Linked DNA regions of Homo sapiens. The protein of the gene in region 4 purifies or fractionates together with the protein of the main gene of each other region. This does not show direct contact. Each region holds a gene or a part of one and is shown on either strand. Other genes may lie near its edges.

Evidence for each region.
Region 1: the proteins of PANX1 (region 4) and POC5 purify together in Homo sapiens (co-immunoprecipitation; one large-scale study listed by IntAct). This does not show direct contact.
Region 2: the proteins of PANX1 (region 4) and HTR1E purify together in Homo sapiens (co-immunoprecipitation; one large-scale study listed by IntAct). This does not show direct contact.
Region 3: the proteins of PANX1 (region 4) and SLC2A12 purify together in Homo sapiens (co-immunoprecipitation; one large-scale study listed by IntAct). This does not show direct contact.

Annotation. Positions count from the first base shown.
Region 1 is NC_000005.10:75,700,431-75,704,002, forward strand, and holds part of POC5 (centrosomal protein POC5), read right to left. Parts: intron 2,381-3,572; coding exon 2,175-2,380; intron 1-2,174. UniProt on the Homo sapiens protein: Essential for the assembly of the distal half of centrioles, required for centriole elongation. Acts as a negative regulator of centriole elongation.
Region 2 is NC_000006.12:86,940,494-86,944,065, reverse strand, and holds part of HTR1E (5-hydroxytryptamine receptor 1E), read right to left. Parts: intron 1-3,572. UniProt on the Homo sapiens protein: G-protein coupled receptor for 5-hydroxytryptamine (serotonin). Also functions as a receptor for various alkaloids and psychoactive substances.
Region 3 is NC_000006.12:134,032,101-134,035,672, forward strand, and holds part of SLC2A12 (solute carrier family 2, facilitated glucose transporter member 12), read right to left. Parts: intron 1-3,572. UniProt on the Homo sapiens protein: Insulin-independent facilitative glucose transporter.
Region 4 is NC_000011.10:94,135,304-94,138,875, reverse strand, and holds part of PANX1 (pannexin-1), read right to left. Parts: intron 1-3,572. UniProt on the Homo sapiens protein: Ion channel involved in a variety of physiological functions such as blood pressure regulation, apoptotic cell clearance and oogenesis.

The DNA.
Region 1 (3,572 bases), on a different chromosome or scaffold from region 4:
TGATCTTTGACAAACCTGAGAAAAACAAGCAATGAGGAAAGGATTCCCTATTTAATAAATGGTGCTGGGAAAACTGGCTAGCCATATGTAGAAAGCTGAAACTGGATCCCTTCCTTACACCTTATACAAAAATCAATTCAAGATGGATTAAAGACTTAAATGTTAGACCTAAAACCATAAAAACCCTAGAAGAAAACCTAGGCATTACCATTCAGGACACAGGCATGGGCAAGGACTTCATGTCTAAAACACCAAAAGCAATGGCAACAAAAGCCAAAATTGACAAATGGGATCTAATTAAACTAAAGAGCTTCTGCACAGCAAAACAAACTACCATCAGAGTGAACAGGCAACCTACAAAACGGGAGAAAATTTTCACAACCTACTTATCTGACAAAGGGCTAATATCCAGAATCTACAATGAACTCAAACAAATTTACAAGAAAAAAGCAAACAACCCCATCAAAAAGTGGGCAAAGGACATGAACAGACACTTCTCAAAAGAAGACATTTATGCAGCCAAAAAACACATGAAAAAATGCTCACCATCACTGGCCATCAGAGAAATGCAAATCAAAACCACAATGAGATACCATCTCACACCAGTTAGAATGGCAATCATTAAAAAGTCAGGAAACAACAGGTGCTGGAGAGGATGTGGAGAAATAGGAACACTTTTACACTGTTGGTGGGACTGTAAACTAGTTCAACCATTGTGGAAGTCAGTGTGGCGATTCCTCAGGGATCTAGAACTACAAATACCATTTGACCCAGCCATCCCATTACGGGGTATATACCCAAAGGACTATAAATCATGCGGCTATAAAGACACATGCACACGTATGTTTATTGCGGCATTATTCACAATAGCAAAGACTTGGAACCAACCCAAATGTCCAACAATGATAGACTGGATTAAGAAAATGTGGCACATATACACCATGGAATACTATGCAGCCATAAAAAATGATGAGTTCATGTCCTTTGTAGGGACATGGATGAAACTGGAAATCATCATTCTCAGTAAACTATCGCAAGAACAAAAAACCCAACACCGCATATTCTCACTGATAGGTGGGAATTGAACAAGGAGAACACATGGACACAGGAAGGGGAACATCACACTCTGGGGACTGTTGTTGGGTGGGGGGAGGGGGGAGGGATAGCATTGGGAGATATACCTAATGCTAGATGATGAGTTAGTGGGTGCAGCGCACCAGCATGGCACATGTATACATATGTAACTAACCTGCACATTGTGTACATGTACCCTAAAACTTAAAGTATAATAATAATAAAAATAAATAAATAAATAAATAAATAAAACCCACTTACTATTTCTGCAATACTTTGTTTTACTTAAAGGCCAGTAGTATCAAAATAAAAATCAACTTTTATAGTTTTATCACTTACACATCATAGTTGCTATAGGAGTGGCTATAAAATGAATATCCATTGCTAAAATTGGATCTTTCGTTATTGCATAAAAGGAGACATTTCTATTAGTCACAACTACGATATGGTAAAGGCACAGTATGTCTCAGTTACACACAGGCTGAGCCATTCAAAGTATCTGTGAAATTCAATGGAGCATGTAGAACCGTTCCAGCAACCACTTAAAACCTGGCAACTCAAAGTACAGTTTCTGAACCAGTAGCAACACCTGGGAGCTTGACAGAAATGAGAACACATGGACACATGGAGGGGAACATCACACACCGGGGCCTGTCAGGGGGTGGAGGGTAAGGGGAGGGAGAGCATTAGGACACATACCTAATGCATGTGGGGCTTGAAACCTAGATGACAGGTTGATAGGTGCAGCAAACCACCATGGCACATGTATACCTATGTAACAAACCTGCATGTTCACCACATGTATCCCAGAACTTAAAGTAAAATCAAACAAACAAACAAGAGTCAAAAAAAGAAAAAAAGAAGCACGATCTTAGGCCCTGCTGAAGACCTACTGCATATGAAGCTGTAGTTTAACAGGCTCCCGCTATGATTCGTAAGTACATTAAAGATTGAGAAGCAAGACTTAAGACACTAAACTGATCTCAGGAAACAAAAGATTTTTAGAAAGTTTAACTCAAAAAAACAAAACAGTATAAATGAGAGTAAAACTATTACATTACATACTAAACAACTGTAATTGAAGAACTGCTGTACCGTACCTTAAGACCTGAACTCCAAAGATCAAGCACATTTTCCATCTTCTGAAGGTTTTCATCAGAAACAAGAAAATCGCTCACAAGTATTTCATGGGCATCTGTATGACTAGAATTTGTTGCTGGTGAGGAAGAGTCAGCTAAAAGATGTGAACTGAAAAAATCCATGACTGGGTGAGAAGGCTTCCTTGGCGATAACACTGGTGATGACTCTGAATAAAAGAAAAGTTGTAGCTGTCAAGCCAAATTGAAAATAACTCAAGTTGGTAAGGAACCATACTGGAAGGCTAAAAGACGTCTGCTACTTATGGAGGCTGAGAAAAAATGCAGAGAAACTACCTTTCAGGTGTACCTTAATCTATTTTTAATTTCAGTATTGTCAGTGATTTAGCACAGACTGGCATGAGATACCTCCTATACTCCCAATCCCTTCTCTCCCAGCAAATGACCTCTATCCCAGATAAGGATCCTTCATATATCCAGGTCCAGCCTGAGGTGAAACTATCATCATCTGTATCATATCACCATTAATGAAGTGCTTTCTGTTTCTGTAATAAAAACATTATAAAGATTAGTTCTCATAACACATGCTACCCTAAAAAATAGGTATTATTATCTCCATTTTACTGATGAGAAACTGAGGTTCAGAAAAAGTTAAGTAATTGACCAAGGTCAGTGTGGTTGTATATAGGTCAATATTACTCTGTAAGTTTAACACTGGGATTGGTTTTAATACTATTAAAATTCGGCCGGGCGCGGTGGCTCATGCCTGTAATCCTAGCACTTTGGGAGGCCGAGGCGGGTGAATCATGAGGTCCAGAGATTGAGACCATCCTGGCCAACAAGGTGAAACCCCATCTCTACTAAAAATACAAAAATTAGCTGGGTGTGGTGGCACGCACCTATAGTCCCAGCTACTCGGGAAGCTGAGGCAGGAGAATTGCTTGAACCAGGGAGGCAGAGGTTGCAGTGAGCCGAGATCGTGCCACTGCACTCCAGCCTGTGACAGAATGAGACTCTGTCTCCAAAAACAAAAACAAACAAAAAACCTATTAAAATTAAACAATTTAAGTAGAAAGAGACTCATAATTTAGTTTTGCAGATACTCTGTTGTTAAGTACACTGTTAGGCTTCAATGTAGAGGTGAGAAATGTACACATCTCTATATGTATGTGCATATATATAAAACGCTCATCCCCTGCCCATATCCAGGGAGGTGGGGGAGAGTCAGGGCCCTAAAGAGAACAGGTATCTATTTCTAAAAAAGCACTGAAAGGCTGGGCACGGTGGCTCATGCCTGTAATCCCCGCACTTTGGGAGGCTGAAGTGGGCGAATCATGAGGTCAGGAGTTCAAGACCAGCCTGGCCAACATGGTAAAACCCTATCTCTACTAAAAATACAAA
Region 2 (3,572 bases), on a different chromosome or scaffold from region 4:
GAACGTCTCCAGCCAGCAGCCAGCTGGGACCTGAGGCTTGTCAACAGCCACGTGAGCGAGCTTGGAAGCGTTACCTTTCCCCAGTTGAGCCTTGAGATGTCTGCAGTCTCGGCTGAAACTTTGCAGCCTGTGAGTGACAGACCTGAGCCAGAGGACCTAGCTAAGCCATACCCAGATTCCCAACCCATGGAACTATGATCATAGAGATAATAAAAATCTGTTGCTTTAAGCCATTAGGTTTTGGGGTAATTTATTATTTAGCAATAATGAATACACACATTTAATCCTCATAAATAGCCCTATGACATAGTACTGTTATGTGAGCCCCAACAAATGAGGAAACTGAGGTTTAGAGATGTGAAAGCAGTTAATGAATGGCAGAGCTGGGATATGAACCTGGCTTTCTGGACTCGAGAGCTTGGGCTTGAGCCCCATGCTGTGTTACCCCCTAGTAGTATAACACAAGGTGCAGTTTGACATCACAGGTGACAATGAATCACAATAGCATATTCTGTTTTGAGAAACTTCCCTGAAAGGAGGCTGAGGTAGACAGGGCATGTATTATTGTCCCCATTGTAACGATGACAGACCATGCAGCTCATACAGCCAAGAGAATGGGGTATTAACCCAGGCCTTCTGACCCCAGGTCCGTAGAGTTGGGCCTGTGCTTCACTGCCACGCTGGCACTGTGGCACTCACTGTACATTCAGCAAGCCCTGAGGAAGCTGGCGGGAGCTTAGCTGACATGCACAGGGTAGGTCAGTTTGTTCTCTGGAGAGCATTCCATGAGATGCAAATATCTTCACACAGGCCTGGGTTAATACCCCATCCTCTTGGCTGTGTGTAGACCCTCTCACCCTTAGATTCAGACTCATTTTACTAAACAGGCAAAACATAGCTACAAATTTCATGTATTTTAATATAACAGGACTATGTGGTAATAGTAACAATACTATGTAATCATTAACTGTTAATTAAATGCATGCTAATGGTACATAAGTCTGAGAAAGGGTACTCAGTACACTTAATGCAATGTGAGAGATTATCTCAAAGCCAATGGGACCCGGCTGGACATCTTTTGTGCTGGAGAAATTACTCCATCTGCATCACAAGAGCATTGCCTCTGTCACCAAGCTGAAAGTAATCAAGTCTTGTGAGCTTTGAGACTTTTGCTTCCTCTAAAGTCATTTTTCATCCCTTCTTGGTAAGATGCTTCATTTATATGTAAGTCACCAAACCCTGGGGTCAGTACAGTCTGGTTCTCCAATGCCTCGGACATAAAGTAAAACCTTGATGGTCTTAGAAACAGGCTTACTGTATTGCAGAGAGGGTGAGGAGATTACATTGTTTTACCAGTTTACAATCTATGAAATAAAATATGCTTGCCAATATGAATGCATCTTGTAAATGATGTATTTGCTAATTATAAATTAAGTTACATATTTAATCCTTGATTTTTTAGAGCATTGTGTAAGGAATTGAATTAGGTTCAGAAGGAAAGAATGGTAAGAAAGTTAAAATGGCTCAAATGAAAGCATAATAAAAGAGGAAATCATGCTTCTTTCTTTGAATGTTAAATTATGATGAACTATATGGTAGGATAGTGTTTATGGATGACTGTATATCAAATTCTTGTGTTAGGTAACAAATACTTCCTTGACTAGGGCAGAGTTCAACATTAAAATTAGGACTATGTAATAAAGTTTAAAATGTAAGGTACTTAAGTAAGTATACAATTCTTGTTTACTTACAGGAAAGAATTAATTACAATGACAAACTACACTGTCAGAAATCATATAAGGATAAATATTACTGAATTCAGAGGGATGAGTTTGGAATGTGGAATCCTTTTCTGTAGGTTCTTCTTCCTCCATCTTCCTCAGATGAGGTGGGCTTTCCTTTCCCATTTTTCTTGGATGCTAACAGCATCTTTTATACCTCTCAGGCATGTTTTCTGCCCAACAGTGTACAAGCGTAATATAAATCCCTATGATTATATTGTCGCTAACCAGGCAAGCTATTGTAGCTAGCCACCTTACTGGGTTCTCTTATTCTTTCTAATGGCATTTTTATGTATCCCCTTGAATTTTCCTAGTAGCTAATTATTTAATCTGTCATTAATAATAAAACTTTTCCCTGACCAATATTTATAACACTTCCCTCCTTCCCTCCTTCCCTTCCTTCCTTCCTTCCTTCCTTTCTTCTTTCCTTCCTTCATTCCTTCCTTCCTTGCTCCCTTCCTCCCTCCCTAATGGGGTCATTAGGAGGATCTGAGAGTTTTAGAACTGCTAGCTGCTGCTGCTGGTAGCTATTTCTCAAAATATTTTCTTCTTGCTATAAAATGCTTTCCTTCTCATACCAGATTTCATAAAGACCTTCCATCTGGTCTGCACTGATAACTAGAATCCAGAGATGCTCATTCCTCTTACAACTTGTAGTTTAAAATGATCCAGATGCAGAAGGATTAGGTTTCATAGCTTCTTCTAAAGGATTTTGTCTTCCTAATCCTACAACTGCATGTGTTGAGAATTGATCAGCATGAGAGAGTGCTAACAATAAACCTATTAAAGTGTCCAGTTTTTCATTTGACGTGTTTTAGGGGAATACAACAATGGGATCAAAACACTGACATCTATTCAGGTAAGGACTGCAGTAAACCAGATAATCCACAGTGCATGAGACAAAATAAGAGAACTAAAAATGAAAGACAAAATTATAGTCAATCTGTATTAGAAAGAGGGTTCTCAAGAATTTTATCAATTTGTTGTGATCCGGGAATATGCCAATTGATTGAGTGATCTCTATAAATTCTGGTTCTCAGTTTCTTAATCCACAAAATGTGGGAACGAATAAAAAGTAGCTGGGATTTTGATGAAAGTCCTTTCATCACCAGGAAGATGAACTTTGGTAAGTTGACTGACCTAAGCCCCAAATTTTAGGGGCCACAATACTGGTTCTAGAAAATGATTCAGGGAGGAGAAAACAAGAGAGAAGTAAGTCACTCTAAAGTGCTGCTGCCCCATTTCTCTTCCCTGTTCATCTGTCCCCTCGTCACTTGTGACGGCACACTCATCTTCAATGTTTCCCTGGGGTTTATGTTCATATAATTTCACATGTAATAAAAATCTGGTAGGTGCAGAAGAAAGGAGCATAAAGCATGAGATGCTAAACTCACCTCTGCCTTGAGATGGCCTTGATAATTTACGGCATAAAAAGTAAGTTCCTATTTGGTAGAAATTCAGCTTTTGATCAGTCTCAAGCTTATTTTTTTGTGTAAATAAGCTTGTAGAAATAGAGGGAATGCTTTCCCACATTAGAGCGTTAGATTTGATCTTTCACTTTTAAAGGGTAGTGCAGAAATAGAATTCCAGGGTGGGCAATCAAAACAAACATGAAAAAAATGATCTGTGTGTAAAAGTGAGATGTAGGGAATTAGACTTGAGTAATGAGAAGATGACACAAAAGTTCAGGGCCTGAGGCTTTCTGCAAAGAGACCTACTTTCTTTTTCTTTCTTTTCTTTTCTTTTTTTGAGACAAGGCCTTGCTCTGTCACCTAGGCTGTAGTGCCGTGG
Region 3 (3,572 bases), on a different chromosome or scaffold from region 4:
TGAAATAAGCAGGTCAAATAAAGGTGATCTAAAGCTCTACCACAAATACTCAAGGTATTTTCCATCTCCAGGATCCTAGTAGGCTATGGGAATTGGCAGCCCCAAAAATAAGGGGAAAAAAGCACTGAATATTTAGATGGAGGAGCAAATAAAGGTGCAATAATCCACAAGAAATAAAGCAAATTTATGAGCATTTTGAACAAAACCCAGTAAACTGAAATTAAATCAGCAATTTATCTAGCTAATCAGAAAACAAAATATTTGGCACTGTTACATGGCAGGCATTTACCTGGGTACAGGGAGAAATATATATATATATATATATTTATATATATATATATATATATAAATATATATATATATATTTTTATATATATATATATATATTTGTTCTGTTTCACTGCTATATATATATAGCATATATACCAACATGGAGTTATATGCTACAGAATTTAGCTGTGGTCTCAGTTGCCTGAATTTTAATATCTTCCCTATTATATGCTTTAAGGGACACTGCCCCAAACTAGCTTTCCCACTTCCTTTACTACTGATACTTAGGACTACTGTTTGATCCTCAGCCTGTCCATTCGGGGTTTTGAATTCTAATTCACTGTATAAGGCTAGTCCTTAATGCTTCTGAGATTGTGGCTCTGATACCACATTTGTTCTGTTTCACTGCTATATATATATATTATATATATATAATTTATATCTATATATATAAATTATATATTATTTATATATAAATATATATTTATATAATATATTACATATATTATATATATAAATAACTTAATTTTTGGTGGTAGGAACACAGATGTTTGTTATATGTTTGCAACTTGTCAAAATAGAAACAAAACAAAACAAAAAAGCAACAGAGGGAAGAGTATTTCAGGCCCAGGAGAAAGTAATTTCCAAGGCCTTAGGACAGGAAAGTTCTCATTATGTTTTAGGAACTGTCAGATGGCCAGCATATAACATGTGGGGCACATTGTGAGCCTGGAGAGGTAGGACGGAAAGGGCTTAAAGTGAATTTGGGTAAGTACAGAGGGGGCACTTCAAGTAGGGCCTTGTCGGTCACAGTGATGACTTTTCATTGTGTTCCAAGTATAATGGGGCCAAAAAACTTAACATTCTGATGATATCTTTATTACCTATTATTTATTAATTTTGTGTGCTGTTTGACTTTTTTGGCATGCAAAATGACTTTAAAGTACTCTCTTATAGGTTCATTCATGTCCACGGTTTCCATATTCCTTTTCCTATGTGATCTTAAAATCCTCAACAATGAATTCCTCTACCACAAGGAGAATTAGGTCAAATCTTCACATTTGGATAAGAATATTGTATTATTCTTATCTCTGCTTGTCATTGTTCATTTTTTCTATGTTTGCTGTGTTGATTAGTGTATGTGTTTTGGCAATTGAGGACTGGTCTCTGATATTCTGATTGGAGAAATAAGTGAATTTGGAGAATGGACCACCTGGGAGGCCAGACTGAGTGAAGGACCTGGGAAGGGCATGTGGTGTGACAGAGGGCACCTGGGGCTGCGGAGTTAAGGATGCAGGGGAATCAATGCCATAACTGCTTTAATAGCAGAAGAAGATTGTCCTTGCCACCCTGTGCTTCTCCTCTTCCTTTCTTGTTTTCCTCTTTCATGAGATGGAAAATACTGTGTCCCTACAATGAGAAAGATGCCTTGAGATGCAGGAGTCCCTTCCTTCTGTGCTCCATTATCTTACCTTAGAGAGCCTGAAGTGGTTTGCTAAGTGCTAGCTTCTCTGTCTGGAGGAAAGAGCTCCTGACAGAAGAGGGACCCAACCTCTTCTGCTGCTTTCTGGACTTAGATCATTTGCCTGGTTTCTCGGGCCGGGACTCATAGCACACTGACAAATGGGAATATGTGCAAAGGGTCTGGAAGCCATCCCAGTTTGTCAACGTTCCCCTTGAAACCCATGGAGTATAATTCTTCAGAGACATTAAGGAATTATTTTTATATGAATCATAAAAACCTTTTACAATTTTCTATATGATAACATATATCTCTTTCTTGCTATCCATCTTTCTATCTTCCTGTCTCTGGGCAATTTGCCTTTAAGAGGTTAAAACCTTGTACAAGATCATTCTAGAACCCTAGTCCCACATGGACGGCTTACCAACATGGAGTTATATGTTACAGAATTTAGCTGTGGTCTCAGTTGTCTGAATTTTAATATCTTCCCTATTATATGCTTTAAGGGATACTGCCCCAAACTAGCTTTTCCCCTTCCCTTACTACTCATATTTAGGACTGCTGTTTGATCCTCAGCCTTTCCATTTGGGGTTTTGAATTCTAATTCACTGTATAAGGCTAGTCCTTAGCGCTTCTGAGATTGTGACTCTGATACTTCAAGACTTCCATCACAGGAAGTTTTCCTGGTGCTACTTTACAAAGAGAGGCATAAGGAGTGGGTTTTTCTTGTGTGTTGGTTAGCCATGACAAGAGCAAGATGCTATCCTATGGATGCTGGAAAGTAGAGATACCTTTTTCTAAGAAATCTGGCAGTGAACAGGAAGCAAGAGATCAGAATGTGGGTTAAAGCACTGGCAGGAAGGTGGGGTTTGTGTTTGTCTACACACAGAGGTGAGAGTTTGGGCAGCCACGTGGACTGAGGAGAAGTTGTCAGTGGTGAAGGACAGAGTAAGATGAGGATTCACAATTAGCACTTTTCCAAAAAATACCCAGCTTTCAAGTCAGTCTGCCTTTAATAATGATGAAGTAGAGCATTCCCAGTCATTTTGCTCATGGCTTTGCTTCACAGGGGCCCTTCCTTTACACCCCAGTTCTCCCAAAAAGTGCCATGGGGAATTCTTGGCTTTTTGTGGACATTACAGAAGTGGAAACTACCTGGAGGCTTGTAAGTGGTACCCCATAGGCAGTTTTGTTATGCCTATCCTGTCTTCTTCCTGCTGTTGGGGCTCGGAATAAGATACCCCAAAGTACGGCACATTGGTGTGCTGAGTACTTTGAACTAGACATGGGAACATAGGAAAGGCCGCTGGCTGCCTGACAAAAAAAAAAAAAAAAAAAAAAACTGTGTGTGCATGCTTTTCAGCTGGCTGTAGGATATCAGCCAGAAACAAGGTCTTTCTGACCCTCTCGCATTTTCCCCTGAAGCAAGTCATGGAAAACAGAATTCCTTTCCCCAAGGTGGGTCTCAGAAACCAGAACCACTCCGCCCCAAAGCAAATCATAAAACCTAAAAAGGTCACTCTCTCCCTTTTCCCTTGAAAACCTTATTTCATGGGAGTCCTGCCCTCTGCCCAGGAGGAAGAAATGCCACACAGTGAGGCCCAAAAAATCTGGACAGGCCTTGCTGGGTTTCTGTTTCAGTTTATTACTATTGACTCATACCCTTTTGTTCAATCACATTTCTACACGCCCATCCTTTCTTCATCAAACCTAAGCATAAAATCAGACATTTTTCCCTGAGTCTTTAGATCTTCATTTTGAAAGCCTCCCATGTCACATCAAACTTTGATTAACTAAATTTGTTATGCTTTTCTCTTGTCACTCTGTCTCCTGTGATAGG
Region 4 (3,572 bases):
AAATAATTAAAAGATGGGTAGTTTTGATGACTTAAAATAACTTCTGCTTATCAAAACTTATACTGTAAAGGTTACTGAGGGATGGCTGTCAGGGGAAATGGGGATGGTTAATGGGCATAAAAATAGAATGAATAAGATCCAGTATTTGATGGCACAATAGAGTGACTGTAGTCAATAATAATTTAATTTTACATTTTAAGATAACTGAAAGAGTACAACTGGATTGTTTGTAACGAAGGATAAATACTTGAGGAGATGGATACCCAATTTCTCCTGATGTGATTATTACACATTGTATGCCTGTGTCAAAATATCTCACATACCCCATGAATATATACCTTTACATACCAACAAAAATTAAAAATTAAAAAACAAAAATGCTTAACATAAACAGAATTCAAAGGAAACGGACAACCGGAAAAGAAAATACAATAAAGGCTAGCTAGAAAATATTTGAAACATAGAAATAGTTAATAAAACCCATTGAGAAACCAACATCCCCTTGGAAAAATAAGCAAAAGATAAGAACAGACAATTCACAGAATTATATAAATGGAAAAAATACATACGAAAAAACATTCAATGCCGTAACTGAATAAATGCGACTTAAAACAATGGCACACCTTTGTTCACCTATTAAGCTGTGGACGATAATCCACTAACTTTTGCCAGCTGTGGGGAAAGCCACTCCTTCAGCTGCGGGGAGAAGTATCCATTGGGGGTCTATCCAGAGGGCAACCCAACCACACCAGTCAAATCTTAAAAATGTCTATGTATACTTTGACCTTGTAATTAGAATTATACAATCACTTGAAATACTGAGATCTTTAGAGAGGTGGTTTATTATGTACAGGAGTGTTCTTCACAATGCTATTTATATTACAAAACTTGTGAAACAGTTAAATTTTGACACGTGCACAACATTCCATGTCACTGCCAACAAAAAAAATCATGTACAACAATTTAGGAACATGGTAACATGGCCTTGACTTAGTGTTTGGTTTTTCAAGAATAGTAGTTATCCCTGGTAGTATTATAGATGTACTGCTATTTTCTCTTCTGTATTTTCCATATTTTCTACAGTAAGTTTTATCTTTATAATGATATAATATACATATATAAATATTTATATTTTAAAAAGGAGTGTGAGCTTTATAGAGAATTTATTAAAAAACAACAGCGTCCCCTCCCCACCACCCCTTTCACCCCCCACAGAACTAGGTGTGCCTGGTACCAAGCAGATGGTAGATTCTCTTTAGGCCCCCTTCTCCCCAAGTAACTAATGTCTCCCTGCTGCCCCCAGAAACCCCACAGCATGCAGCGGGGCCTGCCTCGCCCAGAGTTCCTAGCTTAGCCAGGGCAAATGCCCCCAAATTGCCTCCCTTTCTCCACTTTGGACCAAGCTCTCGCTGCCTCAGTTAGGGGTTTGACAAGGAAGCAATCCAAGAAAGCAACCAGCTGCAGAAAAAAGGTGTTTGCATGGTTTTTTAAAGGGATGTTGCTAATCCAAACCTAGAGTCCATGAAGGTCCTAAGGCCTATTTTCAGGTTTTATCTATCTGTCTATATATTTTGAGAAGGAGTCTCGCTCTGTCGCCAGGCTGGAGTACAGTGGCATGATCTCAGCTCACTGCAACCTCTGCCTCCCGCGTTCAAGCGATTCTCCTGTCTCAGCCTCCCAAGTAGCTGGGACTACAGGCATGCGCCACCACACCCAGCTAATTTTTGTATTTTAAGTAGAGACGGAGTTTCATCACGTTGGCCAGGATGGTCTCGATCTCTTGACCTCATGATCCGCTCGCCTTGGCCTCCCAAAGTGCTGGGATTACAGGTGTGAGCCACTAGAAATGTGTAGCACCTCCCCCCATTCTCTCTTGCTCCTGCTCCTGCCATATAAGACGTGCCTGCTCCCTGTTTGCCTTCCGCCATGACTGTGTTTCCCGAGGCCTCCCCAGAAGCCAAGCAGAAGCCACTAGGTTTCCTGTACAGCCCACAAAACCATGAGCCACATAAACTTTTCTTTAAAAATAACCCAGTCTCTGGTATTTCTTCATAGCAATGTGAGAGCTGCCTAATACTTCTATGTATCAAGTTTTTTTCTTTTTTTTTGAGACGGAGTCTCGCTCTGTCGCCCAGGCTGGAGTGCAGTGGCGCGATCTCGGCTCACTGCAAGCTCCGCCTCCCGGGTTCACGCCATTCTCCTGCCTCAGCCTCCTGAGTAGCTGGGACTACAGGCGCCCGCCACCACACCTGGCTAATTTTTTGTATTTTTAGTAGAGACAGGGTTTCACCGTGGTCTCGATCTCCTGACCTCGTGATCCGCCCACGTCGGCCTCCCAAAGTGCTGGGATTACAAGCATGAGTCACCGCGCCCGGCCGATATGTATCAAGTTTTAAGGACACATGGTCCCTGCCCTAAATGAACTTACAGTATTCAACAGATAAGTATGCAAGTAATTACCTAACTTCAAGTTATGGTAAATGTTAGGAAGGAAACTTACAGTGTTAGGAGAACATGTATCATGAAGTTCTACTTAAAGTTGCAATTCTACCCCCTGAAGGAGGCCCTTTCTTTCTTAAAACCAAGAGCACATCAAAATGCTTCTTCCAAACTTCTAATGCAGTCACATTTTGAGGGAGTCAGAGCTGGATAGTGTACAGGGCAGTGGTTTTTTTTTTTCTTCCACTTATTTCAAATAGGAACGCAGGAATGCAAAACTATTCGGAAAATGATGTCATCCTTCTGGAAACTGATACTGCTGCGACTAGTCTCCTTTCCTTTTAATGCTGGGAGGAGAGAAATATTTACGAAGATTTTCATGCAAACAAGCTTTATGTGTGAGTAGAAATTTTGAAAGAAAGTAAATGTCCATCATTAGGGGACTGCTTAGATGAATTGTAAGTATATTCTAAGCTATGGAATACTGTTCTATTATAAAACAGTGAGGTGACACCTATGTACTGGCACGGAAAGCTCTCCAAACATACTAAGTGAGAAAAAGCAAGCCACTATGGTATGACTCGATTTGTTTTAAAAAATAAAATAAGGTGTACACGTTATGCTAATGCAGACAAAGTACAGCAATAAGGCTGCACAAAGTGTCCACCTACCTTCAGCACATAGTGAAAGAGATTTATGAATCCTTTACCATGATGATGTATTTAGCTACTACTTGTACAAGAAAAATATTAACAAAGTAAAACATGTATCCAACAGTAGACTCTCTGGACAGCATGCATCCTTCTGGAGGGGTTAGGAGTCTCTCTTGGCTCTTTGGTTTAGTGTGAGTTGAAGATGTTCTATTATAGGACCTATGCCATGAGACCCTAAATATTGGCCCACTCTGATAGACAACCCTGAAAAGAATCGATCTGCTTTGCCAGCTGGTACATGCTAAAAAGCAGCCTGAAGATATTCCCAAAGACAGGTCTAAATTCAGCCACAACAGAGCAGATAACTTAAGCCACCCAGCCGCTGACTCAGTTGCAGGAAATGAAAGGGGAACTCCAAGCAAACTATATTGGAAGCAGCTGCAGTTATATCTATCCTTTGACTCACTGGGGCTGGCCCAA